Linked DNA regions of Homo sapiens. The protein of the gene in region 7 purifies or fractionates together with the protein of the main gene of each other region. This does not show direct contact. Each region holds a gene or a part of one and is shown on either strand. Other genes may lie near its edges. The genes, in order: MSN, ALDH16A1, IPO5, TRNT1, RBBP6, SDSL and ATIC.

Region 1 (4,373 bases), on a different chromosome or scaffold from region 7:
TGGTATTGTATAAACTTGAAGAAGGCATTCCCTGTACTAAAGGAGAACAGAGGACTAGTTGAGGTGGGGTGGCAAGGAGAGGGAGTAACTTGAGGGGGGAGAAAATAGCCAAATAAGGCAGACTTGACTGGTAGGAATCATCAGGAAAGGTTCCAGAAGTTGACGTTGCAGGGAGGAAGCCTTTAGTCATCGGTTTCCTCTGGCAACTGGCCTAAGACCAGAAGGAAAAAAACTCCCAACCTTAGGAAAATGCCCAGGCTATGGCAGACAGAAAGGCAACTAGGCTAGATTTTCACCAGGCCCACATCAGGCCCTGCTGGAGCAACTCTTCAAGCACTCAAAGTAGAAAGATGTAGTGTAACCCTAAAGCAAATGGCAGATGTCCCCACCAAGCATATGCTAGATCTACAATGGCCCAGGCACCAAGGGGAATAAGGAACCTGGGAGGGGGGTTTGTTCTTTTCCATTTACATATTTCTTTTTTTTTTTCTTTTTTTTTAGACAGAGTCTTGCTTTGTCACCCAGGCTGGAGTGCAATGGCGTGATCTCAGCTCACTGTAACCTCCACCTCCCAGGTTCAAGTGATTCTCCTGCCTCAGCCTCCCAAGTAGCTGGGATTACAGGCTCCCGCCAACACGCCCGGCTATTTTTTCTATTTTTAGTAGAGACAAGGTTTCACCATATTGGCCAGGCTGGTCTCAAATTCCTGACCTCAAATGATCCACCTGCCTCAGCCTCTCAAAGTGCTGGGATTACAGGCATGAGCCACCACACGCAAACTCCATGTGCCTCTTTCTAATATTGCTGATATTTTCATGTTGGAGAAAAAGAAAATTAAAAGGCAAAGAAGTTATGTGACTTTTCTTCTTTGTAAAGGAATTAGTCAGTCTCCCACAAGTATCTACAAGGATGTTTGGAGAGGAGTTTAGCTCACTTAAAACCCTTGAAAATAGCAAAGATTTGTACGACTTAACTAATGATGCCCAGATTGACTGTTACCTTGACCCTCACCCTCCAACTCTATACCATAGATTAGTCAACCTCAGTTAAAAATTACAACAGATAAAAGAGGCTCTTGGTGAGCTTCATCAAACATCCAGGCTGAGAATCTGAAAAAATAAATGGATCAGCCAGGCGCAGTGCCTCACGCTTGTAATCCCAGCACTTTGGGAGGCTGAAGCAGGCAGATCACCCGAGGTCAGGAGTTCAAGACCAGCCTGGCCAACATGGTGAAACCTCATCTCTACTAAAAAAAATATAAAAATTAGCCGGGCGTGGCGGCGCACACCTGTAGTCCCAGCTACTTGGGTGGCTGAGGCAGGAGAATCTCTTGAACCCAGGAGATGGAGGTTGCAGTGAGCCAAAGTCATGCCACTGCACTCCAGCCTGGGCAACAGAGCAAGACTCCGTCTCAAAAAAAAAAGAAAAGAAAAAAAAGGAAATGGATCATGGGTTGGAGGGAAGGCAGATTAGATCACGAAAGTAAGATCAGGAACCTTATCTAAACACACAACTTGAGAAAAATAAGACTTGATCCTTCTCAGGTATTTAATGGAGGCCAAGGCTAAAGAGAGGGAAAGAAATACTGATCAAGCCTGACAGGTATGCCTTGTTCCCCCTCCTAGGCCTTGGCCCCAGTCACTTCCCAAATATATACCCAGGAAAAAAATTTTCAGGATTATATCTTGTTTTGTACAACCAAATTGTCATATCTCAACTCTTCTCTCATTAGGCCCTGATCACTACCCTGGATGCACAAAGTATCTATCAAATTCCCACAAGGTAGAAGGGTTGCCAGGAATGGGAAGAAACTTCAATATTCGAAGTCACCAATCACAGAAGATAACTGGCAAAACAGTTCTACTAAGCAAGCACAGAGCCATTTGCCATATTAGTGGCCTAAGAGCTATGTCAACACTTACCTTATGCCACAACAAGCCGATTGAAAGGAGCATCAGATCTGGTATCTGTGTCATTAGGCACAGACAAAGGGCTGTGCTTTGAAAGTCGCCCAAAAGGCCTTTTCTCCAAATTCAAGACCCAGATGCTGCAGCTGTGCCCTGGCCAGAAAACGTCATACTCCTCCACCTCTAACAACCACACACTGAGAAATCCTCCCTGCCATCTCCACCCTTTCCCAAATACCTGATTTTATAGCAAAGTCAATGAGAGAATTAAAAGCTGTTTCTAGGCTGCTGACATAAAGTTATTGCCAAGCTCTATTCTTTGGTTTAGTTCATGTGTAAGCATGAAGAAAAGACCCTCTCACATACCTACTTAGGCAACAAAAGCAACATTTTTAAAAATTAATTTGCCCAGGCTGGGCGTGGTGGCTCACACCTGTAATCCCACCACTTTGGGAGGCTGAGGCGGGTGGATCACCTGAGGTCAGAAGTTCAAGACCAGCCTGGCCAACATGGTGAAACCCCATCTCTACTAAAAATACAAAAATTGGCTGGGCGTGGTGGCGCATGCCTGTAATCCCAGCTATTTGGGAGGCTGAGGAACGAGAATCGCTTGAACCCAGGAGGCGGAGGTTGCAGTGAGCCAAGATTGCACCATTGCACTCCAGCCTGGGCAACAGAGCTAGACTCCATCTCAAAAAAAAAAAAATTAATTTGCCCAATTCTGGAAAACCAAAGGTATGGTCTCCCCCACAGGCCCTTGTTTGCCAATTAAGAAAGGATTGTTGGATCCAAATTACCCTAGAAAGAGTAGCTTCATCTATGCTTATATCTGTGGCTCCCCTTGAATCAGTCAGCAGCTCAAGCCTCCCTTCACTTCAGATAAAGTAACTTTCAAGAGAGCATTGGTCTAGGGCCATTGGTTTACACCCACATACCAAAAACACATCACTTTCCCACCCAGAACGGCCACTGCTCCCAAGTGTACACACCCTTTAAGGCCCTGTTCATGTCCCAGTAAACCCTTTCTCCTCAAAAAGTTGTAGAAAATGCAATGCAAAGTATATATTTTTCTCAAGCCGTTTTTAAGTGAATTAGCCCTAAATCCCCAATTAAATAGGAGATAGGAGATCTTTGAAGGCAGCAGTTGTATCATCCCTTCATTTATTTCTATCCCTTATGGTAAATAGTACATAGTAACCACTCATTAAATGGTAAGAATTCAACTACCTGTCTTCTTTCTTATCCATCCCATCTAGCACAAAGTTAGGCATATAGTAAAATTCAGTAAATAATCATAACATTTGTATATCACTTGTTAGATTCTAGGCACAGTTCTAAGCCCTTTACATAAATTACCTCATGTAATCCTCACAGCAACTCTGTAAGTACTATTATTATTTATGGTTAAGGAAAATGAGGTGCAGAAGTTAAATAACTTGTCCAAGGCTATATAACTAGTTGGTCGCAGAGCTAGATTTGAGTCCAGGCAGTCTAGTTCCAGAGTCTGTTTTTCAACACTACTCTATGCTTCCTTTCCACGGAGGCTTGAAAGGTCTTTTTTTAGCTTCCTGCCCCAGGCTTGGCCTATAAGCACCTAGAGGTGAGTGGTGAACTTTGAGGCCAGGAGATTCTAGTCTGCATTCAAACAATTTGCTACAGCAGCAAATACTGTCACTAAATTGAAAAAGTGCCATACTGTTCTCCTAACTCAAGGGACAGATCAAGCTGGAGCGCTGAGTCAGAATTCAGAATTCAAAAAGGTCAGAGCTCAAAATTAAACAGGGCAAAGAGAAAGCAGGGAACTGGGGTGAGGGGTAGACAGGAAGAGAAGACAGTCATCGGAGATCCCAGAAAAACTTGCTATAGCAAAACCATTTTAGGGGAACTCCATTGTACCCATCTTGTTAATGTAATCACCACAGAGCCAGTTCTCTGGAAGTCTGTGCTCTCTGGGTGGAGTCATCCTTCTAAGACAGCCAAGTCCAGTGGGAGACCACTAACTTGGGAATTAGGAAATCCAAGTTCTCCTTTCAATACTGTTACCAACTATATGTGACCTCGAACAAGCTGCCTAACCCCTCTGGCTATGAATACGATGAAGAAATTACTCTCTAAAGTTTCTTAGGACAGCAAGGCCTAGTCTCAAGCAGGAAAATGTGACTAGTGTCCTCTCTCTACCTCCCTTCAGCCTACACATATGCCTTCCACCACCCGTCACAAGCCAAAGCAAAACACTTACCTTCCTGGGAAGTGCTACAAAGAGTTCCTGAGACAAGGTCAGAGCCTGAGCCATTTCCAAATAAAGAAACCCATGAGATCAGCTCTACACACTCAGAGGAACTTGCTCTTCCCATGGCCATAACTCCACGGTCATGTCACCACCAGCACAGAGGGAGAAGACACTGAGCACCTCACAGTGAGTGCCATTTAGAAGGTAGGCATTCACCATCCCTCCCCTACACTGGA
Region 2 (4,373 bases), on a different chromosome or scaffold from region 7:
AGCTAGGAGTTCAAGATCAGCCTGGGCAACATGGCGAGTCTCTTGTCTCTGCAAAAATACAAAAACACCCAGTCATGTGTGCTGGTGTGTGCCTGTGATCCCAGATACTCAGGAGGCTGAGGTGGGGGGCTCACTTGGACCTCGGAGGTTGAGGCTGCAGTGAGCCATGATTGTGGCACTGCACTCCAGCCGGGTGCCAGAGGGAGACTGGTGCCAACATGCCCAGCTAATTTATCTATTTTTTGTGGAGACAGGGTTTCACTGTGTTGCCCAGGCTGGTTTCAAACTCCTGGCCTCAAGCGATCCACCCACTTTTGCCTCCCAAAGTGCTAGGATTACAGGCGTGAGCCACCATGTCTGGCCAGGTATTTTTTGTTTTTTGTTTTTTTTTGTGACACAAGGTCTCACTCTGTCACTCAGGCTGGAGTGCAGTGGCACGATCTCGGCTCACTGCAACCACTGCCTCCTGGGTTCAAGCAATTTTCCTGCCTCAGCCTCCTAAGTAGCTGGGACTATAGGTGCCCACCACCGTACCCAGCTAATTTTTTGTATTTTTAGTAGAGACCAGGTTTCACCGTGTTGCCCAGGCTGGTCTCGATCTCCTGACCTCGTGATCCGCCTGCCTCAGCCTCGCGAAGTACTGGGATTACAGGCGTGAGCCACTGCGCCCCCAGGTGTTTCTTTACAGCAATGTGAGAACCGCCTAACAGCCCACTAAATTGATTTTAGGGTCCAGGAATGGGTCGCTATCCATCATCTGGCGAACGCTACTCTACGAGGCGGGTTGTGTGCCCACTCACTGTACAGATGAGGGAACTGAGGTAGGGAGAGGTGAAGCCACTTGCTGATGATCCTGCCGTGGAAGGCGGTGGGGCTGGGCCCGAATTCCAAGCCTGGGTTATCTCACAGCCTCTGGTCTGAGCCCCACCCCGCCTGCCCAGCTGGCCCAGGTGCCCACAGACCCTTCACCTGCAGGGTGTGGCCTTGGGCCTGCACCCGGGCCCCCCACGCCCGAAGTCGTCTTGCGCTCAGCTCCACCTCCGCCTCCGCAGCCTTGAGCTCCGCTCCCTGCCTCTCCAGCCTCGAGGCCAGGGTAGACTTCCGGCGCTCCAGTGCAGCCGCCAGGGCCCACAGCAGGGCTGCCCGGGCTCCTGGGGACTGGCCCGCCCAGCTGTGGGCAGACAGCGCACAGTGGGGGTTGGCATCCTGGTCTTGGCTCTCCTGACACCCCACCTCTGTCCACAGCCCCTACCCTGGGGGCCCAGCCTCCCAGTCCACCAATTGCTGTGGGCAGGCTCCCCTCTCTGCCACACCATGACCCTTGGGCTTTCCCGTGTGACCCCTTACCCAGGGAAAGCCTGGTGAGCGGCCTCCACAGCACCTCGGATGTCCTTGGCTCCACCCTCAGCCACGTAGCCATGGAGGTTGCCAGACGAATCCCGGATGGGCCTGGAGCTTCGGGCCCCAGGAGCCTGGAAACGGCCCCCAACGAAGAGCCCATAGGGGGGTGCTGGGCTGGAGTAGGGTGGGACATGAGGAGGAGTCCTGGGGCCTCAATCTGCTCAGACCCTATGCTCTACCGCACTGGGAAGACTGCCTTGGCTCCCGTGAGCCTCTGGGGCACCCCAAACCCCTGTTCCCATGAGCCTCTGGGGGACCCTAAAACTCCTGCTCCCATGATTCACTGGGGGACCCTAAACTCCAGCTCCCATGAGCCTCTGGGGGACCTTAAACTGCTCCCATGAGCCTCTGGGGAACCCCAAATTCCTGCTCCCATGAGCCTCTGGATGACTCAAGTTTCTGCTCCCATGAGCCTCTGGGGGACCCCAAACCCCTGTTCCCACTAGCCTCTGGGTACCCTAAACTCCTGCTCCCATGAGCCTCTGGGGGACCCTAAACTCCTACTCCCATGAGCCTCTGGCAGACCCTAAACTGCTCTCATAAGCCTGTGGGGCACCCCAAATTCCTGTTCCCATGAGCCCCGGAGGACCCAAAGCTTCTGCTCCCATGAGCCTCTGGAGGACCCTAAGTTCCTGCTCCATGAGCCTCTGGGGGACCCTAAGCTCCTGCTCCCATGAGCCTCTGGTAGACCCTAAACTGCTCCCTTGAGTCTCTGGGGGGACCTCAAACTCCTGCTCCCATGAGCCTCTGGAGGACCCCAAGTTTCTGCTCCCATGAGCCTCTGGGGGACCCCAAGCTCCTGCTCCCATGAGCCTCTGAGGGACCCCAAGCTTCTGCTCCAGTGAACCTCTGGGGGACCCCAAGCTCCTAGACCCATGAGTTTCTGGGAGAGTACAGACATTCATGGGGCAGAGCTGAGAGTCTCGGCAGGCCTGGGGTAGGGAAAGTGTGAGGCCACAACGTGGTACTCAGCAGGACTAAGAGATGGTTTGGATGGACCTCGCGCCAGCCCTCCAGTCCACGGGGAAACAGGCATCAATTCCCCTCTCCCCGTTCACACTCCCAGACCACTGGCCCCCAACGACTCACCTGGGCCCTATTTCAGGCCCAGCCGGCAGGGTTGAGGGAACAGCGAGGCCAAAGGTGTCATAGTTCAGGTTCTTGGAGAGGCAGGACAGCCGGGCAGGGGTCCCTGAGGGCCGCAGATACTCATACAGCCCCTGTGAGAGGGACGGTGTCAAGAGGATGCAAGGGGCACGCGAGGCCGGATGCGAGTGTCAAGGGCATGGGGCGGCGGGGGGGCTGGTGACGGGGAGGGGATGTACTCACGTCTGGGCCCCCGTGCCAGGAACACCCACTCTCCTTGCAGCCGCCTGTGGGCACCGAAGGGTCTCTGAGGCCGTGGGCGTTGATCCAGACAGTGCCCACCTGGAGCCTGTGGGGAAGATGAAGGTGTCCAACAGAGGAAAACAGACGGTGGCAGGCCGGGAGAGGGGTGAGTTAAAGGCGCGGGGAGCGACCCAGGGAGAAGGGAGATGAAGATGGAAGAATGAGGAGAGGAGTGAGCGCCCGGGCCACGCAGACTGACCCATAGCCCAGCTCCAGCGCCTGCCCCAGCCTCTCGCTCCACACACTGGCGCTGCCCCCGCGGGGCGTCCCGTTGGCCACCAACAGTGCCTCCTTGGCTGTGCGGAAGGGGGAGGCCACGACCACAGGCCACGGCACCTGCAAGGGGTGACCGGGAGGCTCAGCCCTCCAGGGCCCACCCACCAGGGAAGGAGCCTAGAGCAGGCAGCAGCCCCCACGCCCAGGTCACATGGTTACCCCAAGGGCTTCCCCAGGCACAGAGCTGCTGCCCTTGGCTGGCGGTGGGTAGGAGCTCTGCAGCCTTAAGGGTCTCACCTCCACCTGGGCACATGGGGAGGCTGGGGGCAGGTTGGAGACCAAGGTTGGGGGATAGAATGGGCGTTCCGAAGGCACATCACCAGCCTGGAACACCTAGGGAGAGAAATGATCTAGAAGTCGACTTCTGGTCCCTTCCTGCTGAGACCGAGGACTGCAGGACCCCAGCCCCTCCTCCCTCAGACCCAGGAGTCCAGGCCCCCAGCCCCTCCTCCCTCAGACCCAGGAGTCTGGACCCCCAGCCTCTCCTCCCTCAGACCCAGGAGTCCAGGCCCCCAGCCCCTCCTCCCTCAGACCCAGGAGTCTGGACCCCCAGCCCCTCCTCCCTCAGACCCAGGAGTCCAGGCCCCAGCCCCTCCTCCCTCAGACCCAGGAATCCAGGCCCCAGCACCTCCTCCCTCAGACCCAGGAGTCCAGGCCCAGCCCCTCCTCCCTCAGACCCAGGAGTCCAGGCCCCCAGCCCCTCCTCCCTCAGACCCAGGAGTCTGGACCCCCAGCCTCTCCTCCCTCAGACCCAGGAGTCCAGGCCCCCAGCCCCTCCTCCCTCAGACCCAGGAATCTGGACCCCCAGCCCCTCCTCCCTCAGACCCAGGAGTCCAGGCCCCAGCCCCTCCTCCCTCAGACCCAGGAATCCAGGCCCCAGCACCTCCTCCCTCAGACCCAGGAGTCCAGGCCCAGCCCCTCCTCCCTCAGACCCAGGAGTCCAGGCCCCCAGCCCCTCCTCCCTCAGACCCAGGAGTCTGGACCCCCAGCCTCTCCTCCCTCAGACCCAGGAGTCCAGGCCGCCAGCCCCTCCTCCCTCAGACCCAGGAGTCTGGACCCCCAGCCCCTCCTCCCTCAGACCCAGGAATCCGGGCCCCAGCCCCTCCTCCCTCAGACCCAGGAATCCGGGCCCCAGCACCTCCTCCCTCAGACCCAGGAGTCCAGGCCCAGCCCCTCCTCCCTCAGACCCAGGAGTCCAGGCCCCAGCCCCTCCTCCCTCAGACCCAGGAATCCAGGCCCCAGCACCTCCTCCCTCAGACCCAGGAGTCCAGGCCCAGCCCCTCCTCCTTCAGACCCAGGAGTCCAGG
Region 3 (4,373 bases), on a different chromosome or scaffold from region 7:
GCATGGGCAATGACTTCATGACTAAAACACCAAAAGCAATTGCAACAAAAGCCAAAATTGACAAATAGGATCTAATTAAACTAAAGAGCTTCTGCACAGCAAAAGAAACTGTCATCAGAATGAACAGGCAGCCTACAGAATGGGAGAAAATTTTTGCAATCTATCCATCTGACAGAGGGCTAATGTCCAGAATCTACAAATAACTTAAACAAATTTACAAGAAAAAAACAACCCCATCAAAAAGTAGGCAAAAGATATGAACAGACACTTCTCAAAAGAAGACATTTATGTTGCCAACAAACATATGAAAAAAAGCTCATCCTCACTGGTCATTAGAGAAATGCAAATCAAAACCACAATGAGATATCATCTCATGCCAGTTAGAATGGTGATCATTAAAAAGTCAGGAAACAACAGATGCTGGCGAGGCTGTGGAGAAATAGGAATGCTTTTACACTGTTGGTGGGAGTGTAAATTGGACAAACTGATTCTAAAAATTCATCTAGAGTTGCAAGAGACTCTGAGTAACCAAAGCAGTCGAAAAAAACAAAATTCAAAGGATTAACAGTTGCTGAATTCAAGGCTTACTATAAAGCTGTAATAATGGCCGGGTGCAGTGGCTCACACCTATAATCCTAGCATTTTGGGAGGCTGAGGCGGGCAGATCATGAGGTCAGAAGATCGAGACCATCCTGGCCAACATGGTGAAACCCCATCTGTACTAAAATACAAAAAATTAGCCGGGCGTGAGGGTGCATGCCTGTAGTCCCAGCTACTTGGGAGGCTGAGGCAAGGGAATTGCTTGAACCCAGGAGGCGGAGATTGCAGTGAGCTGAGATTCCACCACTGCACTCTAGCCTGGTGACAGAGCTAGACTCCGTCTCAAAAAAAAAAAAAAAAGCTATAATAATTAAGACACAAGTGTTACCGGCATAAGGACAGACATATAGATCAATGGAATTGAATAGTGACTCCAGAAATAAACCTTACATGTGTTGTCAGACTGATTTTTGACAAGGATACTGTGATGGTTAGTTTTATGTTTCACTTGGCTAGGCTGTTGGAGCCCCGTTGTTTGGTCAAACAGCAGTCTAGATGTTGCTGGGAAAGTATCTGTGGATACAATTTAACATTTATAATCAGTTGACTTTAACTAAAGCAAATTACCCTCCACAAGGTGGGTGGGCTTCATCTAATCAGTTGAAGGCCTTAATAGCAAAGATGGAGGTTTCTGGGGGAAGAAACAATTCTGCTACAAGACCACAGCACAGAAACCTTGCCCGAATCTCCACCTGCTGGTTTGCCCTTCAGATTTCAAACTCAAGACTACAACATCAACTCAAACCTGAATTTCCAGCCTGCTAGCCTGCCCTGCAGGATTTGAACTTTCCATCTCTCATAATTATGTAGCAGATTCCTTAAAATAAATCTATCTATCTACCTTTTTTTTTTTTTTGAGACAGTTTCACTCTGTCACCCAGGCTGGAGTGCAGTGGCACAATCTTGGCTCACTGCAACCTCTGCCTCCCAGGCTCAAGTGATTCTTGTGCCTCAGCCTCCTGAGCAGCTGGGACTACGGATGTGCCTCACCATACCCAGCTAATTTTTTGTATTTTTAATAGAGACAGGGGTTTCACCATGTTGGCCAGGCTGGTCTCGAACTCCTGACCTCAAGTGATCTGCCTGCCTGGGCCCCCCAAAGTGCTGGGATTACAGGTGTGAGCCACTGTGCCCATCCATCTATTTCTTATTGGTTCATTTTCTCTTGAGGACCCTGGCTAATATAGGAGCCATGACTGTTCACTGTGGAAAGATTGTTGCCGGTACAACTTGATATCCACATGCGTTAGAATGAAGCTGGACCCATACTTCACGTCATAAAAACTTCAAAGTGGATCATAGACTAAATGTAAGAGCTAAAACTATAAAATTCTTACAAGAAAATATAGGACTAAATCTTCATCGCTTTGGGGTAGGCAATCATTTTTTAGCTATGACATCAAAATCACAAAAGGCAGAAGAGAAAAATGGATACATTGAACTTCACAAAATTAAAACCTTTGTGCTTTTAAGGACACCATCAAGAAAGAGAAAAGACAACTCATAGAATGGGAGAAAATATATGCAAATAATGTATATTTTTTGAGACAAAGTCTCACTCTGTCACCCAGGCTGGAATGCATTGGCATGATCTCAGCTCACTGCAGGCTCTGCCTCCCAGGTTCAAGTGATTCTCCTGCCTCAGCCTCCAGATTAGCTGGGATTACAGGTGTGCGCCCCCACGCCCAGCTAATTTTTGTATTTTTAGTAGAGATGGGGTTTTGCCGTGTTGGCCAGGCTGGTCTTGAACTCCTGACCTCAAGTGATCCACTCACTTTGGTCTCCCAAAGTGCTGGGATTACAGGTGTGAGCCACTGCGCCTGGCCACAAATCATATGTCTTATAAGGGACTTATATCCAGAATATTTAAAAAGCCCTACTCTCAATTAAAAAAAGACAACCCAATTAAAAAAATGGGTAAAACATTTGAATAGACATTTCTCCAGAGAAAATATACAAATGGCCAATAAGCACATGAAAAGATGTGCAACATCATTCATCATTAGAGAAATGCAAATCAAAACCACAATGTAAGTTACCACTTCATACCCAATAAAATGGCTTTAATAAAAAAGGCAACAGCAAGTGTTGACAAGAATGTGGAGAAATTCAAACGCTCATACTTTGCTAATAGGAACATAAAATGTTACAGCCAATTTGGAAAACAGTCTGAATAAGCTGGGTGTGGTGACGCATGCCTGTAATTCCAGTTACTCGAGAGGCTGAGGCATGAGAATCACTTGAACCTGGGAGGCAGAGGTTGCGTTGAGCCGAGATCGTGCCATTGCACTCCAGCCTGAGTTACCATTTGACTCAGTAATTTCACTCCTAGGTATATGTGCAAGAGAAAAGACAACATATGTTGACACAAAAACTTGTACATGAATGTTCATGGCAACATTATTCACCACAGCCAAAAAGTGGAAACAATTCAACTGTCCATCCACTGGTGAATGGATAAACAAAATGTCTTCTAACTATACAAGGAAATATTACTTCGCAATAAAAGAATAAAGTAATGATACATGTAACAACATGAGTGAACCTTAAACTCATTAGACTGCCTGAAGGAAATCAGACAAAAAGACCACACATTTTTTTGGTCCCACTTATGGGAAATGTCCAGAATCAGCACATCCATAGACAGTAGATTGGTGCTTGCCATGTGCCTGGGCATGGGGTGGGTAGGGGAATCAGTGAGTGCTAGCAGGTATGGAGTTTTCTTTTAGGGTGAGGAAAGGGTGATAGTGATGAATGTGCAGCCCACTGAATATACTAAACACTCCATTGTACACTTTAGAAGGTTGAACTTTAGGCTGGGTGAGGTGGCTCATGCCTGTAATCCCAGCACTTTGGGAGGCTCAGGCGAGTGGATCACCTGAGGTCAGGAGTTCGAGACCAGCTTGACCAACATGGTGAAACGCTGTCTCTACTGAAAGTACAAAAGTTAGCTGGGCGTAGTGGTGCGCGACTGTAATCCCAGCTACTCAAGAGGCTGAGGCAGGAGAATTGCTTGAACCCAGGAGGTGGAGGTTGCAGTGAGCCGAGATCATGCCATTGCACTCCAGCCTGGGTGACAAGGGTGAAACTCCATCTCAAAAAAAAAAAAAACCAAATAAATAAAATAAAAAGTAAAATTTGGACTTTATGGTGTATGAATGTCTCAATAAAGCTATTATATTAAAAATACATTTCCTTAGAGAGCTGAAGGATATTGATTTAGACCTCAATTAGTGATTTTTTCCCCCTATCATTCACAGTATTTTTACCTTAGTTCTGAATCCTTGAGTGATAACCATTCATAACCTTCAAACTTCGGAGAATTCCTAAACCAATATTTGTGGAGAGGGAGAATGGGGAGATTCAGATATGATTTGGTCTGTAGACTTTCCTTCCCATCTTTTTGCTACTTACAGCAAGTATCTTACAATTTGGACACATGACATACACATTTCACCTCCTGCATTGTGAGGACATACATAATGGAGTCTGAATTGTGACATCGATCTGCATCTCATAGTTGGAGCTATTGGCAGCATGGATTTTTAGTCATCCACAGTTAATGAGGAACAAATGAAAGGGACCTTATAATGGTTCATAGGCTTCAATTCCATGCATCCTATGTGTAGTACTGCTTGATGCCACATTTAACTGCAGTAGTATTTGTTTAATGAACATTTTCTTCATTCATTTGTTTAGAAAAATATTAGGCACCCCTCTGTGGGAGGTGCTGCTAGGCTGTGGGGATTCCACGGTGAGCATGCGGACAGGGT
Region 4 (3,665 bases), on a different chromosome or scaffold from region 7:
TGATTTGTAAATTTTGAAAATTAGTTAAAATATGCAGTTTTTTGAGCCCACGAATAGTTGTCATTTCCTTTATGTGCCTGTTAGTAAAAAGTAGTATTGTGTATTTGCTCAGTATCTGAACTATAAGCCCATTTATACTGTTCCATACAAAAGCTATTTTTCAAAAATTAATTTGAACCAAAACTACTACTATAGGGAAAAGATGCCAAAACATGTCCCCTCACCCAGACTAAACTTGATACTGTATTATTTTGTTCAATGTAAATTGAAGAAAATCTGTAAGTAAGTAAACCTTAAGTGTGAAACTAAACATGTTCTTTGTTCAAATAATGTAAAATATCTACTCATAATTTTAAAGTTCTAAAAAGGCTGCTTTGCCACCTACCTCTTTGCTTATATTCAAGGGTTTAGTGGGTCCTTCCTTCCACATTTGTATGATAACTTTCGTTTTATTGGTAGTCCTTTGCTACTTTAAAACTAATCAGGTTAAATGTTTACTCAAATGTAGTAATAGTATGAGGCCAAAATACATGCCTTGAAGGTGGAGTGAAATCAGTTGAGTGTCACACTGCATATTTATGTAAATAGAGTAAATGAAAATTCAAGAATACTTCCAATCAGGATATGCCCCTGCCTTATTTTTTCTAAGGTCTACTTTTACTACTTTAATAATTTTGGGTTTGTGTGACTTCACTGGTCTGGTTTGTTCCTATAGTTCTTACACTGCACTAAAACTTACTTACTCCAGGAAGTTCCTGTCAGTAGCATAGTACCTCTCTGTAGGCTGAACTCTAAACCAGTTGCAATGAGTTACCTTGTCCCTCTGAAAAGTTAAAATTTCAGTATGTCCCATACCGTTTACTAGCAAATAAAATTTTCTGATCTGTAAAAACACACATATACTATACTACTACTGAAAATGGTTTTACACATGACAAAACCAGACCTGATAGCTAAATCTGCATACTTTCTATACAGAAATAGTATGTATTATATGACGTTGGGTCTAAATCTGTATTTTGGCAGTACTTAAATATTTTAAGTAAGTATTTCAAAGTATTATTTTATAATGCATCTAATTACTGACCTGTATGCAGTCATTTCTGAGGCTTTCTTGCATCATAGCCCCTGTGACATTTCCTCTTAGAAATATTACACTCTACAAAATTGTTTTATCAAGGTCCAAAATTACTATTTGCTCATAGAGTACAAAGATGTTATGACTGGCTACACAGAAAGGAAATAAATTATGAAATGTCAGTATAGCAGCTGAAATTATAGCAGCTGAAATAAACAGTTTGTATTATACATTTTATTTACCTGATGAAAGCATTTAGGACTCAAATCTTTAGAGAATATATAATAATAGCCATATCCTTTTAATTAATAAAATAACACTTTAAAGACAGGCATATTACCATTGTATATGACACCTAATACACATTGTCAGATACCACATAAACATATTTATCTTCCAATACCAATGTTTGTTTTATTAAAACAATAATTAATTAATAGGCTCAATAGTGACCCTCAAGTTAATCCCATGACTTCCCCAGGCTCTGCATGCATAAAGAAATCATTGTGACAGAAAAATATCAACCACATACTGAAGCATAGCTTGCTAGAACAAATCCTGTACATATGAATGCCAGCAACTGGGGACACATTTAGTATTCACATTTTATGCAAACTTACTTGGTCAATTATTTCTTTTTTAAGCACAGGTTTATTTTGGAATTCAGATAAGAACTGACACATCATAGACAGTCATTGTTAAGGTAACCCTGTTATTTCAATTGCAAACAAACAATAAACGTTTTTTCTTCAAGACAGTTACCACTTTTTAAGATCTTAGTACTACCCTATGCAAAAACAGTTTTTTTTAAAAGCCTGAACAGGTTAAGATAGATAATAGCCAACTATGTTTTCTCAGGTGAAACTATTCCAAAAGAACTGTACATTTCAGTGATATAAATCAGATCCAGAAAGGTGGATCTCTGTTTAGTTCTTGAAATATATAATTCACAAAATAAGACCCTTGTTGTTCTACAGAGGTCCCCTAAACTGTCTTTTATTCTGGTGTAGTCTCTAAAACCTCATTAAGAGGGAGGGGAGAAAATTTAGTCTTACCAGAAATGCTCTGCTTTTTAGTAGCCATCAGTTTTAGGTCTTCTTTATGTAACTCAGAAGTTCATCTTTTTCCATTTGGTAACCACTTTTTTTCCACTGTTCTCGCAACTGTTGTAATAGAGCCCCAATTTCTTTTCCTGAAGAAATGCCCACTTTTCTGATGTCATGGCCACTTACAGGAAATGGAGGAATGGACCACTGCTGCATTTCCTTTAGGAGACAGTGCTCTCCTTGGTACTTCAGTAGTTCACATACACGAGTAGTTGCATCAGGTTCCCTAGACTACGTGTCAAAATCAAACATTTAGTTTCGTCACACATGAAAACATACACTTACAATCTTATCCTAAAATTTAAATACTCAACATAAATTTTTTCATTTAAAATAAGTAAAATTCACAGATTTGTAGATCTTAGTTTTAATAAATTAATTCTAAATTCGTGACGATACTTCATATTTCTGACCAAGCCTAGTATATACTTACATCTATAATGAAGTCTTGATAGGGTTTCAATGGGTCTGAACTATCTGTTGCTTTAATTAAATCTTTCCTATTTTTAACTATAAATAAGCCAAGGTTTTTCTCCTCTTTTGCGATCTTCAACCTCAAATCCAATTTTGTGACATCATCTTGTACTTTGAATAATGAGGCCAAAAGAGTCACTGGCTTTGGTGAAAAACCATCAACATTTTTACTGACTTTGTCAAATTCTTCTAAACTTGCATTAGCAGGTAAACCTGTAGGGACAAAAGCATTTTTCACCTGTTTTTAGTGGGGATAAAAAACCACTCATATCCTAAACCTTGCCACCATTTTAGTATCCAGAAATGCTTTGTCACTAGGATACATTATATAGGTTCAGTCTGATGTTCCAACTTAAAGGCGAACCACTAATATATTGTTATTCTCTCCCCTGTCACCTTCAAAACCTCTAAAATGTTCTTGTTTCCATTAAAGCTACATCAAGAGTTCCAGGGGTAGTGGTGACAGTGGTGTCAGACTCACAAGGCATACTCTTTCTAATCACAAATTCCTGACTTTACACTGATACAAGATCCACCCCCCATTCAGTAATGTTACTGAAATTTGAAATATGCCCAAGCTTACCGAAGTGTGATAAACCATATAATCCCACTATTCTCTGTGAAAATGAATTACAACGTTTACTGAACAATTTCTGTGTACAAGTCACTCTTCTAAAAGAGCTTTACATGTATTAACTCACTGAATCCTTTTAGCTTTCCTATTAGATAGAGGCTACATTACTTTTAAACCGCTTTTTTGGGTTAGAAACTAACCCAAGTTGCAAAGACTAGATAAGGGGCTGAGCTTCCTTCAAACCTAGGTCTGACTAGAGACTACTCTACAAGCACCACAAGCTGTCTTTGAGCTCTTCCCTACTCACGACAAAACTTACCCCATAACCCAAACTTTGTCTTATTTTAAAATACTCCATTTCTCCAAGAATTCTTCAACCAAATGAGTCAAACATTTTTTCCTTATGAAATTTGAAACCAGATATTTCACTGCC
Region 5 (4,373 bases), on a different chromosome or scaffold from region 7:
TTATGTACTCAAATCAAACTTTGATCATCCAAATTAAGGGTAGAAAAAGTTAAACCTACTAGGAAAATAACTGCCACCATATTTAAAATAACTTTTCAAGTAATTCTTATCTATTCATTAAACTGAAGTCCTGTCAAGATCCCCATTTGTTGGATATGAAAGTAGAAAAAAACTTTTAAAATTTTGTATTTTAGAAAAGATTTGCTCATTTAAAAAAAACCCTCATATAAGCTTGAATTTTGACATTTTACATAAAAAATGTTAATCTGGCACATGAAAGTTTACAATAAAGAGCAGCGACCCGCTGCCTAGTTTGGACCTTCCATTATCTAGTTTGCCTAGTTTGGACCTTCCATTATCTAGTTTGCAGGCAATCATCTGAAGATTATTGTAAACATCTACTCACTGTTCCCAGCCTGGTCGACCACCACCTGGACGAGCAGTATTTATTCTTACTGGACCTAGAAACAAAAAATAAAAGCAGTAGGTAAATACAAAATTGCACATTAAATCAAGCTAAAATTATTTTTTAAAGGGAAAAAGGTCTAAACCAAAGTGATCTTACTCACCAGTTGTGGGGATCAACTGTCCATGCAATAATGACTGTCCAAGCAAAGATGGGGTTCCAAGAACAGGCACCTGGTAACCCTTTAGAAACAACCACAAATAAACAGAAATAGTTAAAAAAAAAAAAAAAAAAGAGGTAAGAACAAAGCCAGAAAAACAAAACCCTGCTGTAAAAAAAATCCCAAATTAAAGCACCAGTAAAATTTACCTTCTCTTCCATAAGAGCGGTAATTGCAATTGAGGAGGTTCCCTTTGAGTGCTCTGATGCAAGAGCTGCAGCTGGCAATATTTTATTATCAGAATCCCTTTAAAAAACATAAATTATAATACATTAAAAATTATCAGAAATGGACAATTAAGAGTAAAAAAGTTTGCTGCTGTTTACCCATCACCTGCAGTTAAGATGAGTTAAGTCAAAGATGATGAATACTTCTGAGGAAAGTGAGAGAAGGCTGAAACTTTGAAGAGTTCTCTATATGTAGTAAGTGGAAAAGTAAAATGAAGGACCTCCTTAAGAAGATACTACAGTTATGACAGAAATCAGTTGCAAGAATAGTAAAACTTAAAATCAAAGTCTGGCCTATGAAGACAAAAATCCCCCTAGGATTAAGAGTTAAGTTTTAGCTCTAGTTCTACCACTAAACTGAAAGGATAATCTTGGGTCAGCCATAGAACTCTCTGGGCCTATTTCCACTATCAACCAAATAAATTCCACCAGATCAGTGGAATTTCTTAAATGTAAATGTAAAGGTCTCATCCTAAAGATTTTGCTTCAGTGTGTCTGAAATGGGCCTCTTACACCTTTTTTTTTTTTTTTTAAAGAATTTATGAGACATTAAACTACATGGACAAAAGTCTCATTTCTGAAGTGGTAGGCTGTGAGTTTTCACTATTCTCCTACATAATAATTATGCTCCAAAACAATCACTATTCCTGACTTCTCTACTTACCTGTGTTTTTACCCCCTCTTCTCTACCTATCTAAACTGTTCTTAGTTCTACTCAAAACTACTCCTATCCAAAACTATCATTATGATCACAAGTGAATTCTCCCACCTCTGTTAAGTTCAGAGCTGTTATGGTATATGGAACATTCAACGTTTAATAGGGGCTGGTTGGCAACCTGTGTAGTATTTGACCTCAGGATGCTTAATCCTCATTTGCCAAATCAATCACGTTTGTTTTCCTCTTCCCCCAATAAGACTAAGTCACTTCTTACAAGTCATCCCACATTACTGAGCACAGTGGTCCACTAAGAAAGCTGTTAAAAGTGATAACCAACAACAAAACACTACATCATTGACCTCATTTGGTTTCTAACAGTGAAAAACACACAGGCTTACCGAAAAGGTCCATCTGATTTTTCTGAATGAACTGATATGGATACTGTTGCAGTTATATCAGGTACAGGAGCTGGAGCAGAAGACGGATTTCCAGACACAGGAGGGGCCAAGGAAGACTGATTAGAAGTTAATGAAGATATAGACGGAGCTGGGTGAGTTGATGAAGATGTCACTGGAATCATAAGAGGATCTTGTTGTCTTGATATCGGAGATCTCATCAGAGGTTGTAGGTTCCTCTGAATCAGTGGTCTCGGAGGTGGTATTGGGGGTGGTGGAGGAGGTAACTGTTTTCGTAGTCTTTTTGTATAGCCAGTTTCATTTTTGAAGTTATTTACAGCCTACAGATACCAAGCATAATAATGCAGAAAAATGTTATGCAGTATTCACTGAAGTACAGTTAAATCAGTTAAAAAGAATTTTTTCATAAAATGGATACAGACAGTTACCTGTCGTAAAAATTTATTGGCAATTAAAGCATCAGGAGAAACATCATTTTGATGACACGTCGGACATGTGTGCTCATCTGATTCCAGGAGTGCTGTTCTTATACCTATGTATAAGATTTCAAATATTAATAAAAGCATAGTAGGAACTCAAAGTGTTTACGAAATGAATTAAAAGGATGGTCCACATTTGTTCAGTTACATTACTGTTTTCCAAGCATGTCGTGCTAATCATTTCTTAGATTAAGAAACTTAAGTAAAATCTCTCATCTTACAGTACTCCTCTGCTCTTTTCTATATGACCTATGCTACGCTAAAAAGAAGTCACAGCTGGGTGTGCTGGCATGTGCCTGTAATCCCCACTCCTGGGGAGGCTGGGACAGGAGAATCACTTGAGCCTAGAAGTTCAAGGCTAGCCTGGGGCAAAATAGCAAGGATCCCCCACCCCATCTTTTTTTTTTTTTAAACAAATGTCTGAATTGAGAGCAAAAGCACTCTTTCTCAAAGACTATTCTTTGTTTAGCTAGTAACTGGAATATTGTAGAAAACAAAAGAGAAATATAAGATAGTCTAGAAAGACAAAAATTTTACATGGCTAACTTGGGGTTTTTATTCAGGCAAGGAAATGAGAGACCTACAGCACAGTACGTGGGAGCAACACTAAATTACAGATACGAAGATTAAGCTTCAATGTAGTAAAACTCCAGTAATACCAAGTGGTATGTTAAATCTAAGATATAATCTGAAACAAGTCTTTAGCAACCTCTTCTTGACCTTGGTCTTCACTGAAGAGGTCAAAAAATAAAGATTTACAGGTATCCAAAGGGGATGGGTTCCAGAACCCTCTGAAGATAACGTCTGTAGATGCTCAAGTCACTCAACTGCCCCAAAGGCATAGTATTTGCATATAATACTATGTACATCCTCCAGTATACTTTAAATAATCTCTAGATTGCTTGTAATACCTGCTGCAATATAAATGCTATGTAAATAGTTGTTATACTCTTATTTTAAAATCTGTATTAGTCTTTACTATTATTTTTTACTGTTTTCTTGCCCCCAAATATTTATGATCTGTGGTTTTGAATCTGCAGATGCAGAACCATGTGTATGAGGACTGTATATTTCAAAACTACCTTTAAAAATGAAAAAGGCCAGAGCAGGCTTGAGCAAATTTTCAGGTAACACTGATTTCTTCTGTGTAAGAAGGCACAAACTTAGGATAAGTGGCAGGAAACAACTAAGTGCTAATATAAGTGATTTAAAAAGTCACAACTGCATGGTAAATGCTGGGTAATAAATATGTCTACAGATGTCGGGCGCGGTGGCTCACGCCTGTAATCCCAGCACTTGGGGAGGCCGAGGTGGGCGGATCACGAGGTCAGGAGATCGAGACCATCCTGGCTAACACAGTGAAACCCCGTCTCTACTAAAAATACAAAACATTAGCCGGGTGTGGTGGCGGGCACCTGCAGTCCCAGCTACTTGGGAGGCTGAGGCAGAATTGTGTGAAGCCAGAAGGCAGAGGATGCAGTGAGCCGAGATTACACCACTGCACTCCAGCCTGGGAGACAGTGAGACTCTGTCTCAAAAAAAAAAAAAAAAAACAAAAACTGTCTACAGGAATCAGGTGTTAATACACTTAGAAATATTAGGATAAGCTATTCACAATCCAGGAAAAAGATTTAGATACCACTTAAAAATATTTCCAGAATTATCTAAGGCCCAAAAAAGTTTTAAAATTCTGGATACCACTTAAAACATACAGGAAACAAAAAGTCTATATTAAGAAAAACACCTCAGTATAGTCACCCTGATGAAGGTACAGAAGTCAATTCTAGAATTTAAAAGGACAAACAGGTTATTGTTTAAAAAAGATACAGCAAGAAAAACAGACTTCTCACTACTTAATGCTCATTGATCAACACTTGTCATCAACATTATTTATTTTATTATTAAAACATATGAGGTTGGGAAGAGCCATTCCAAGTAAATACAAATATTCTAAAATATACATCTTC
Region 6 (4,373 bases), on a different chromosome or scaffold from region 7:
TCCCCCCTCAGCTCAGCTATCCTGAGAGAGGACTGGGTCCCAGCCACAGCTCATCGAAAGGAAAAGGAGACAGGATGTCTTAGGGGTGGGGTGAGGTGAAGGAGAGCAGCCCACCCAGATGGTTCTCCCCTTCCCAGAGCCCTTACCTTTCCAGTCAGCTGAACCTCGGCCCCCTCCCCCTGCAGCCTCTGCACCACCTGCAGGGAGGTGCTCTCGGGGAGCACGATGGTGGCAGGAATGCCCAGCTTCCTAGCAGCATAGGCAGCAGCGATGCCCGCATTACCCCCTGTGCAGAAAGGAGGAAAGGGGCAGTGGGCAGAGCTGATTGGCCTTTGATATGCCTTCCCCTCCCCCTCCATATCCCTTCAGAGTCACTCGTCCCCAACATTCATATGCCCCATTGACTCCTTCCTCCACTCAAGAGGGGGACACATAATTTAGGTTGAGCCAATCAGAACCTAATCCCCCAACCCATGATTGGTTCAAGGATGAAGACGCCACCCAAGCGGGGCCAAAAAAAAAAAACAATTCCAGGATTGAGGCGAGGCATCGAGAAGGGGTGCTCCCTTTTCCCTAGGGTTGGGAGGCTGGTAGGATGCAAGGCTGGAATTCCTGGTGGCCATCTTGCTACCATGAGGCCCACCTAAAAATAAAGCTAATATGCAGGAAAGCAAAGTCCAGAGAAGGAGAGACAGAGAGGAGAGCTCCTGGATCCCCCTGTGCCTGAAAGCCACTTATCCCAAGAATTTTCCATTCTTAGAGCCTGTAGCTTAAACCTATATGAATTGGGTTTCTGGCACTTGCTACCATCATGAGTCCTGAACTATGGGAGAAGGCTAGGATGGGATGTACACAGTAGTCATCTCATCAATGACCTTGATGAGGCTGGGCCTTTAAGAGGAGACCAACCCTGGATGTGTACTGCCGCTCCAGCCTATTCCTCCTCCCCCAACCTCTGCCCATGAAACAAAAAAAGGTGGGGTCACCTGAGGAGCACACCAGGTGTCTGCATCCCTTCTTGGCCATCTGGGAAGAGAAGGAATGGGGTTAGCGGCTAACCCAAGCAGGTGTCATGAAGGCCTATGTGGAATGGCGTTAGAGTCTCCCCATCCCACTCCCAATACGCCTTTACCCCTCATCCTGCCCACAGCCCTGCCCTTACCTTTCCCCTCCCATCTGCACGAGTTCATGTTTCCCCTCCTGCCCGAACCCGTCCCCAGCCCACACCCCTCACTCTTCCCTCCCTCCTGCACAACCTCACTTCTCCCCTCCTTCCCACACACCCTCACCTCCTGGCAGAAATGCCCAATGCCCCGAATCTTGAAGGAGCCGCTGGGCTGCACATTCTCACACTTGAGGAAGACAGGCATGCCCGCCACCTGGGACAGCGCCCAGCTCTCCAACAGAGGTGTGACCACGTGAAAGGGCTCCTGCTTGGCATGCTCTGCCACAGGGCCGTCCATTCTGGAGACCAGGTAGACAGCCTGCAGGAGGACACAAAGTCACCACCCAGGCAGTCCCCATCAAGAGTTCCCTTAACCAGGACAGGGAGGGGAAGGTGGAGAAAGCCCTTGGCTTAGGTGCCCTTCACTTCATCCAGCTGCTGAGCTGTGAGACCCCCATCAAGTATCTGTGACTCTCTGGGCCTCAGTTTCCCCATCTGGTCAAAGAAGTTTGGCCTGGGGTCCTTTCATTCCATAAGTGTGGCTGTGCTGGGGATGTAGAAAGTGGCCAATATATGGTGAGAAATGAATGAGAGAGTGGGAGAATTCATTCCTCAGTCAAAAAATACTTATTCAGCACCTACTATGTGCCAGGCATTTCCAGGTTTGGGGACCCACGAGTCATAAAAAACCTCCCACTAGGAAAAGTCACAGAATTTCAAATAGGAGTGACTTGCAGAGGGTATGGGGTGTTATTTTAGCAAAAGCAATCATGAAAGACATCTCTCAGGAGGAAAACTTTGTAAAAACGTTTGTTATGGAAAATGTAAACATAGCAAAAGTATTGAGAACTGTATAAAGACCTTCAGCTGGCAGGGGCACAGCGGCTCACGCCTGTAATCCCAGCATTTTGGGAGGCCAAGGCAGGCAGATCACTTGAGGTCAGGAGTTCGAGACCAGCCTGGCCAACAAGGTAAAACCCTGTCTCTACTAAAAATACAAAAATTAGCCAGGCATGATGGTACACACACTTGTAATTCCAGCTACTCAGAAGGCTGAGGCAGGAGAATCACTTGAACCTGGGAGGCGGAGGTTGCAGTGAGCCAAGGTTGTGCCACTGCACTCCAGCCTGGGTGACAGATCGAGACTCCGTCTCAAAAACAAACAAACAAACAAAAACCCTTCAGCTTCAGCAATCAACTCATGGTCTAACTCGCTCCCCTATCGGTGCCCACTCCCCCTTCCTGTGTCATTATTTACCCCTTAATTACTATTATTCTTTTATATTATTTCACCTGTAAATATTTCAGCATGTCTCTCTGGAGGTAAAGAACTTGTGTTTTTGAGACAGAGTCTCACTCTGTCACCCAGGCTGGAGTGCAGTACTGTAATCACAGCTCTCTGCAGCCTCGACCTCTCAGGCTCAAGCAGTCCTCCCACCTCAGCCTCCTGAGTAGCTGGGACTACAGGCACACATCACCACGTCTGGCTAATTTTTGTACTTTTTTGTAGAGATAGGGTCTCACTATGTTGCCCAGGCTGGTCTCAAACTCCTAGGCTCAAGGGATCCTCCTGCCCCAGCCTCCCAAACTGCTGGGATTACAGGCGCGAGTCACTGCATCTGGCCTAAGAACTCCTTTTTTATATGTAACCATATGGTTTCATGACTGTACATACATTTGTTCAAACACATTGAATTCTATACTTAAAGTGGGCTAATTTTATTTTATGTAAATTATACCTCACTGAGGCTAATTTTTTTAAAAATGTAATCACAATACTATGATCACATCTAAAAATATAATTTTTTCATATCATCAAATATCTGTTAATTGTTCACATTTCAAATCATCCCATTAAATATGATCAGTGGCTGATTCTGTGGTTGGTTGTGGTTTGGGGTTTTTCACGGTTTGAATCAGGATGCAAATCAGATCCGTGCATTTTGATTGGCTGAGGGGTCTTTTAACTCTGCCTCCATCTGTACGTTCTTGAAAGGGGAACTTTGAAATGGATGACAGGAAGAGAGCCAAGAGGAAAAGTTCCTACAGAGAACAGCAGCCAGGACCACCTCGAGGGAGAAATGCACTTTGGGGTGCCGCGGATGCAGACAGAAGGGGTTTGGGGCAGGAGGTGAGGGTAGGGGGTGAGGGCGGAGATGTGGACAAGGGTGCCAGCAGGGGGTTCCCGCCCACGGAGAGGAGTTTGGTTGTTATTCAAATTCTACCTGCAATGGAAAGCCATTGGGAGGTGGTGGTGGAGGTGGTGGTGGTGTTGGTGGTGGTCGTGGTGTTTTGAAAGGGAGTCTCGCTCTTGCCCAGGCTGGAGTGCAGTGGTGCAATCTCTGCTCACTGCACCCTCTGCCTCCCGGGTTCAAGCGATTCTCCTGCCTCAGCCTCCCGAGTAACTGGGACCACAGGCACACGTCACCACGCCTGATTAATTTTTTGTATTTTTTGTAGAGACGGGGTTTCACCATGTTGGCTGGTCTCAAACTCCTGAGCTCAAGTGATCTGCCCACCTCGGCCTCCCGAAGTGCTGGGACTACATCCGTGAGCCACCGCGCTCAGCCCTTTGAGAGGTTTGAAGCCGAGGAGCTGTGTGTGAATGGACCAGTGGGTAAGGACGAAAAGAAGAGATGGAGGAAATGAGAGGGAGGAAAAATAGTAGAGAAAAAAAAAGGAAAAAATACAGCCAGCTCCTCTTGTCCCAGGCAGAAAAGCACTGGGCCGGTCCCCACCATTCCATTATTGGCCGCTAGGGGGGGCGCTGCAACTTCCCCTGCCCACTCACAAACCTAACCTTCTTGTCCACCCTTAAGTCATGGCTGGGGTTCCAAGATCAGAGAGATCAGGGTCTCTTGGCCCTGAGTTTGACCCCACGCCCTTGTCAGAATAGCCTTGAGAATCCTCAGGGCCCCCTCGGGCAGGGCACAGCCTGAGCCACCTCTTCCCAGTCCCACCCAGGGCACCTCTCAGCTTCGGGCATCAGGGGAAAGAAGCCCATGGGTCATCACTGATCCCCAAATGCCGCATACCCCAGCCTAGGCCTCAGCTCAACCCTGGACCCCAAGAGCACAGGCTTTGGGGTCGACCAGAAGCAAAAGTTAGAAACCAGCTCCGACTTCCTGGCTGTGTGACCCAAACAAGTGTCACAACCTCTCTGTGCCTGTTTCCCCTTCTCTAAAATGGGGATAAAAACAGTCCCCAA
Region 7 (4,373 bases):
CAGTGTGCTGGATGGGGCTCCAGTTTCTCCACATCCTCATCAACGTTACTATCTGTCTTTTTGATTCTAGTCATTCTAGGGGTTCTGAAGTGGCATCTCATTGTGGTTATAATTTGCTTTCCAAATAATGTGGAACACCGTTGGATGTGCTTCCTAGCCAGTTGTTTACCTCCTTTGGAGAAATGTCTGTTGAGACCTCTTGTCCATTTTTAGTTGAGGTATTTATCTGTTTATTATTGAGTTGTAAGTTTATTTCCTCTCATTCTATGGATTGTGTTAGCCTTTCTTGATGGTTTCCTTTGATCATCACAAGTTTTTTCTTTTTTTTGAGACGGAGTCTTACTCTCGCCCAGGCTGGAGCACAGTGGCGTCATCTTGGCTCACTGCAACCTCCACCTCCCGGATTCAAGCGATTCTGCCTCAGTCTCATGAGTAGCTGGGGTTACAGGTGCCCGCCACCACACTTGGCTAATTTTTTTGGATTTTTAATAGAGATAGGGTTTCACTATGTTGGCCAGGTTGGTCTTGAATTCCTGACCTCGGGTTATCTGCCCGCCTTGGCCTCCCAAAGTGCTGGGATTACAGGCTTGAGCCACCATGCCCGGCCCACAAAAGTTTTTAATTTTGATGATGTTGAATTTATTTTTTCTTTTGTTGCTTGTGTTAATGGTGTCATGTCTAAGAAACCATTGCCTAATCCTCAGTGATGAAGATTTTTGTGTATATTTTCTTTCTTTTTTTTTTTTTTTTTGAGATGGAGTTTCGCTCTTGTTGCCCAGGCTGGAGTGCAGTGGCGTGATCTCGGCTCACTGCAACCTTCGCCTCCTGGGTTCAAGCGATTCTCATGCCTCAGCCTCGCAAGTAGCTGTGATTACAGGTGCCCGCCACCACGCCCAGCTAATTTTTTTGTGTTTTTAGTAGAGACGGGGTTTCTCCATGTTGGCCAGGCTGGTCTTGAACTCCTGACCTCAGGTGATCCACCTGCCTCGGTCTCCCAAAGTGCTGGGATTACAAGTGTGAGCCACCGCACCCGGCGTGTGTACATTTCTTTTAAGAGTTATTTTAGTGTTAGCTCTTATACTTAAGTCTTTGGTTCATTTTAAGTTAATTTTCATATACAGACATGAAATAGAAGTCTTATTTTATTTTGTATGTGGCTGTCTAGTTGTCTCAGCATCATTTGTTGAAAAGACTGTTCTTTGCCCAATCGAATGGTCTTGGCACCCTTGGTCCATGTGCCTGCTGTTATGCCAGTACTACACTATTACTATAGGCTGGTAACAAATTTTGAAATCAGCAAGTGTGAGTCCTCCAACTTCATTTTTCTGTTTTTTGTTTGTTTGTTTGTTTTGTTTTGTTTTGTTTTTGAGACGGAGTCTGGCTCTGTTGCCCAGGCTGGAGTGCAGTGGCGCGATCTTGGCTCACTGCAAGCTCTGCCTCCCGGGTTCACGCCCTTCTCCTGCCTCAGCCTCCCGAGTAGCTGGGACTATAGGCGCCCGCTACCATGCGCAGCTAATTTTTTTGTATTTTTAGTAGAGACAGGGTTTCACCGTGTTCGCCAGGATGGTCTCGATCTCCTGACCTCGTGATCCGCCCGCCTCGGCCTCCCAAAGTGCTAGGATTACAGGCGTGAGCCACTGCGCCCGGCCCCAACTTCGTTTTTTTTATTCAAGATGACTTTGACTCTTCAGAGTCCCTTGCATTTCCACATGATTTTTAGAATCAGCTTGTCCATTTCTGCAAAACAACGCAGTTGGAATTTTCATAGGTATTGTGTTGAATCTGTAGATCAATTTGGGAAATGTTACCATCCTAAGAATATTAAATCTTCCAGTCTGTGAACATGGGGTGTCTTTAATTTCTTTAACATTGTCTTGTGAAGTAGAATTGTTTTCTTAATTTTTTTCTCATTCACTGCTAATGTATATTTTAATACAATTGATTTTTATATATTGATCATATATCCTGCGGCTTTGCTGAACTCATTTATTAGTGCTAAAAGGTTATTTTTGTGAATTTGGGATTTTCTGTATACTAGGTGGTATCATCTGCAAATAGATATAACTTCACTGCTTTCTTTCCAGTCCTGATGCCTTTTATTTTCTTTTCTTTGCTAATTGCTCTGGCTAGAACTTCTAGTACAGTGTTCAGTAGAAGTGGTAAGAATGGACATTATTGTTTTGTTTCTTTTTTTTAAGATGGCGTTTTGCTCTTGTTGCCCAAGGCGGAGTGCAGTTGCGTGATCTTGGCTCACTGTGACCTCCGCCTCCCGGGTTTAAGTGATTATCTTGCTTCAGCCTGGGGTTACAGGCATGTGCCACCTTGCCTGGCTAATTTTGTATTTTTAGTAGAGATGGGGTTTCTCCATGTTGGTCAGGCTGGTCTTGAACTTCCAACCTCAGTTGATCCATCCTCCTGAGCCTCCCAAAGTGCTGGGATTGCAGGCGTGCGCCACCTTGCCCGGCTAATTTTTGTATTTTTAGTAGAGATGGGGTTTTACCATATTGGCCACGCTGGTCTCGAACTTCTGACCTCAGGTGATCTGCCTGGCTCAGCCTCCCAAAGTGCTGGGATTATAGGCATGAGCCACTGCGCCTGGCCTCTTGTCTTGTTTCTGAGTTGAGTAGACAAGTATTTTAGTCTTTCACCATCAAGTATGATGTTAGCTGTGGGTTTTTCTTACACTTTGTCATGTTCAGTAAGTTCCCTTCTATTTTTAATTTGCTGAGTGTTTCTATATGAATACCTGTTGAATTGTGTCAGATCCTTTTTGTACATCTATTGAGATGATCAGGTGGTTTTTGCATTTTTCTGGATTCAGTTTGTTAGTGTTTTGTTGAGAGTTTTTGTGTGAAGATACCTAAGAGATACTGGTCTCTAGTTTTCTTGTGACATTTGTCTGGTTTTAGTAGGAGGGCAGTAGACTTAATAAAGATGAGCTGCAAAATGTTTCCCCTCCAATTCTGTTCTTCTGTTTTTGTTTTTGTTTTTTTTAATTAGTTTTCAGCAGTTAGGCTTGTTTGGAGCCTGCCCGTAGAGCTCCTCGCACTACAGGCCTAGGAGTGGAACTGTACTTCACTGATTGTTAATTTTAGATTACTTCTGTATTTTAAATTATTCTTTTGGCATTCCTGTTACCATCATTTTTATGACCTCTCTGAAGGCAAAACAAATGTTTCACCCTTAGAATGCTCTGATATTTTTCATCATTGTGCCAATCCACTGGAAAAAGAATCTAAATTCTAATGTTCTGGATAATAGTGATCACATTCCAAAATGAGAATGTTATCTGTAATCTTGTACTTTATACTTCTATTAAAATGTTCTATAAATTTTTCATGGCTTGGTGGTTCTGGGTAGCTAAGGTTATGCAAGCAGCAGCGTTGCAGTGTGACGTGGAGGGAGTACTGTGTATTCAGATCCGGGGAGCACCTGCTGACTAAATTACCTCTGCTCGACCCCAGCAGGACACCCTGACTTTTTAACACACTCGTTAGAATTCTAAAATGTCAGGCTCACAGTTTATATATTAGTTCTCTATGGCTTTTGTTTACGTTAATAGTACTGACTTGTTTTTTTCCTAGATAGCTGTAAACCACATGAGTGGACTTTTTAATGACAGCCAGATTCGTCTTTGTTTTATAGAGTTGTTGCCTGCAATCTCTATCCCTTTGTAAAGACAGTGGCTTCTCCAGGTGTAACTGTTGAGGAGGCTGTGGAGCAAATTGACATTGGTAAGTCAGAAAAACCATTTTAGAAGACTGAGAGGAGAGGATTATTTAAATTTTAGTGAGATTTCATTTTGAATTTTATTACTGAGGAAATAGAAAGAAAATAGCTACTTCTGGATTGTGTTTTGGGATTACTATAATTCATTTATATTTTCTTTTTTTCATTTATATTTTCTAAGCTTTTTTTGTATGCAGAGATGCATCTGGGTTATTTTCCTGATTTATTTATTTATTTATTTTATTTTTATTTTTTTGAGATGAAGTCTTGCTGTGTCACCCAGGCTGGAGTACAGTGGCACAGTTTTGGCTGACTGCAACCTCTGCCTCCTGGGCTCAAGTGATTCTCTTGCCTCAGCCTCCTGAGTAGCTGGGATTACAGGTGCACACCACCACGCCTGGCTAATTTTTTTTGTATTTTTTATAGAGATGGAATTTCGCCATGTTGGCCAGAGTGGTCTCGAACTCCTGACCTCAGGTGATCCACCTGCCTCAGCCTCCCAAAGTGCTGGGATTCCAGGCATGAGCCACTGCGCCCAGCTTATTTTCCTGATTTTTAAGTCAGGAATTAAAATGGAAGTACATGCACAATGACTTTATTTAAAAGCGGTTCATAAGCTGATAGGGACATACAAAAATCAATAA

Evidence for each region.
Region 1: the proteins of ATIC (region 7) and MSN fractionate together in Homo sapiens (co-fractionation; one large-scale study listed by BioGRID). This does not show direct contact.
Region 2: the proteins of ATIC (region 7) and ALDH16A1 fractionate together in Homo sapiens (co-fractionation; one large-scale study listed by BioGRID). This does not show direct contact.
Region 3: the proteins of ATIC (region 7) and IPO5 fractionate together in Homo sapiens (co-fractionation; one large-scale study listed by BioGRID). This does not show direct contact.
Region 4: the proteins of ATIC (region 7) and TRNT1 fractionate together in Homo sapiens (co-fractionation; one large-scale study listed by BioGRID). This does not show direct contact.
Region 5: the proteins of ATIC (region 7) and RBBP6 fractionate together in Homo sapiens (co-fractionation; one large-scale study listed by BioGRID). This does not show direct contact.
Region 6: the proteins of ATIC (region 7) and SDSL fractionate together in Homo sapiens (co-fractionation; one large-scale study listed by BioGRID). This does not show direct contact.

What each region holds. Positions count from the first base shown.
Region 1 is NC_000023.11:65,673,883-65,678,255, reverse strand, and holds part of MSN (moesin), read right to left. Parts: intron 1-4,373. UniProt on the Homo sapiens protein: Ezrin-radixin-moesin (ERM) family protein that connects the actin cytoskeleton to the plasma membrane and thereby regulates the structure and function of specific domains of the cell cortex.
Region 2 is NC_000019.10:49,462,880-49,467,252, reverse strand, and holds part of ALDH16A1 (aldehyde dehydrogenase family 16 member A1), read right to left. Parts: intron 3,400-4,373; coding exon 3,304-3,399; intron 3,127-3,303; coding exon 2,990-3,126; intron 2,837-2,989; coding exon 2,731-2,836; intron 2,622-2,730; coding exon 2,491-2,621; intron 1,516-2,490; coding exon 1,348-1,515; intron 1,172-1,347; coding exon 970-1,171; intron 1-969.
Region 3 is NC_000013.11:97,959,900-97,964,272, reverse strand, and holds part of IPO5 (importin-5), read right to left. Parts: intron 3,927-4,373; exon of another isoform or gene 3,870-3,926; intron 1,114-3,869; exon of another isoform or gene 991-1,113; intron 1-990. UniProt on the Homo sapiens protein: Functions in nuclear protein import as nuclear transport receptor. Serves as receptor for nuclear localization signals (NLS) in cargo substrates.
Region 4 is NC_000003.12:3,146,656-3,150,320, reverse strand, and holds the end of TRNT1 (CCA tRNA nucleotidyltransferase 1, mitochondrial), read right to left. Parts: intron 2,872-3,665; coding exon 2,618-2,871; intron 2,416-2,617; coding exon 2,167-2,415; 3' UTR 1,298-2,166; downstream 1-1,297. UniProt on the Homo sapiens protein: Nucleotidyltransferase that catalyzes the addition and repair of the essential 3'-terminal CCA sequence in tRNAs, which is necessary for the attachment of amino acids to the 3' terminus of tRNA molecules, using CTP and ATP as substrates. tRNA 3'-terminal CCA addition is required both for tRNA processing and repair.
Region 5 is NC_000016.10:24,559,698-24,564,070, reverse strand, and holds part of RBBP6 (E3 ubiquitin-protein ligase RBBP6), read right to left. Parts: intron 2,460-4,373; coding exon 2,356-2,459; intron 2,248-2,355; coding exon 1,910-2,247; intron 873-1,909; coding exon 776-872; intron 649-775; coding exon 570-648; intron 462-569; coding exon 407-461; intron 1-406. UniProt on the Homo sapiens protein: E3 ubiquitin-protein ligase which promotes ubiquitination of YBX1, leading to its degradation by the proteasome.
Region 6 is NC_000012.12:113,425,073-113,429,445, reverse strand, and holds part of SDSL (serine dehydratase-like), read right to left. Parts: intron 3,550-4,373; exon of another isoform or gene 2,477-3,549; coding exon of another isoform or gene 2,459-2,476; intron 2,317-2,458; exon of another isoform or gene 2,195-2,316; intron 1,485-2,194; coding exon of another isoform or gene 1,464-1,484; coding exon 1,290-1,463; intron 1,027-1,289; coding exon 987-1,026; intron 287-986; coding exon 147-286; intron 1-146. UniProt on the Homo sapiens protein: Catalyzes the pyridoxal-phosphate-dependent dehydrative deamination of L-threonine and L-serine to ammonia and alpha-ketobutyrate and pyruvate, respectively. Also exhibits racemase activity towards L-glutamate and D-glutamate.
Region 7 is NC_000002.12:215,321,596-215,325,968, forward strand, and holds part of ATIC (bifunctional purine biosynthesis protein ATIC), read left to right. Parts: intron 1-3,645; coding exon 3,646-3,734; intron 3,735-4,373. UniProt on the Homo sapiens protein: Bifunctional enzyme that catalyzes the last two steps of purine biosynthesis.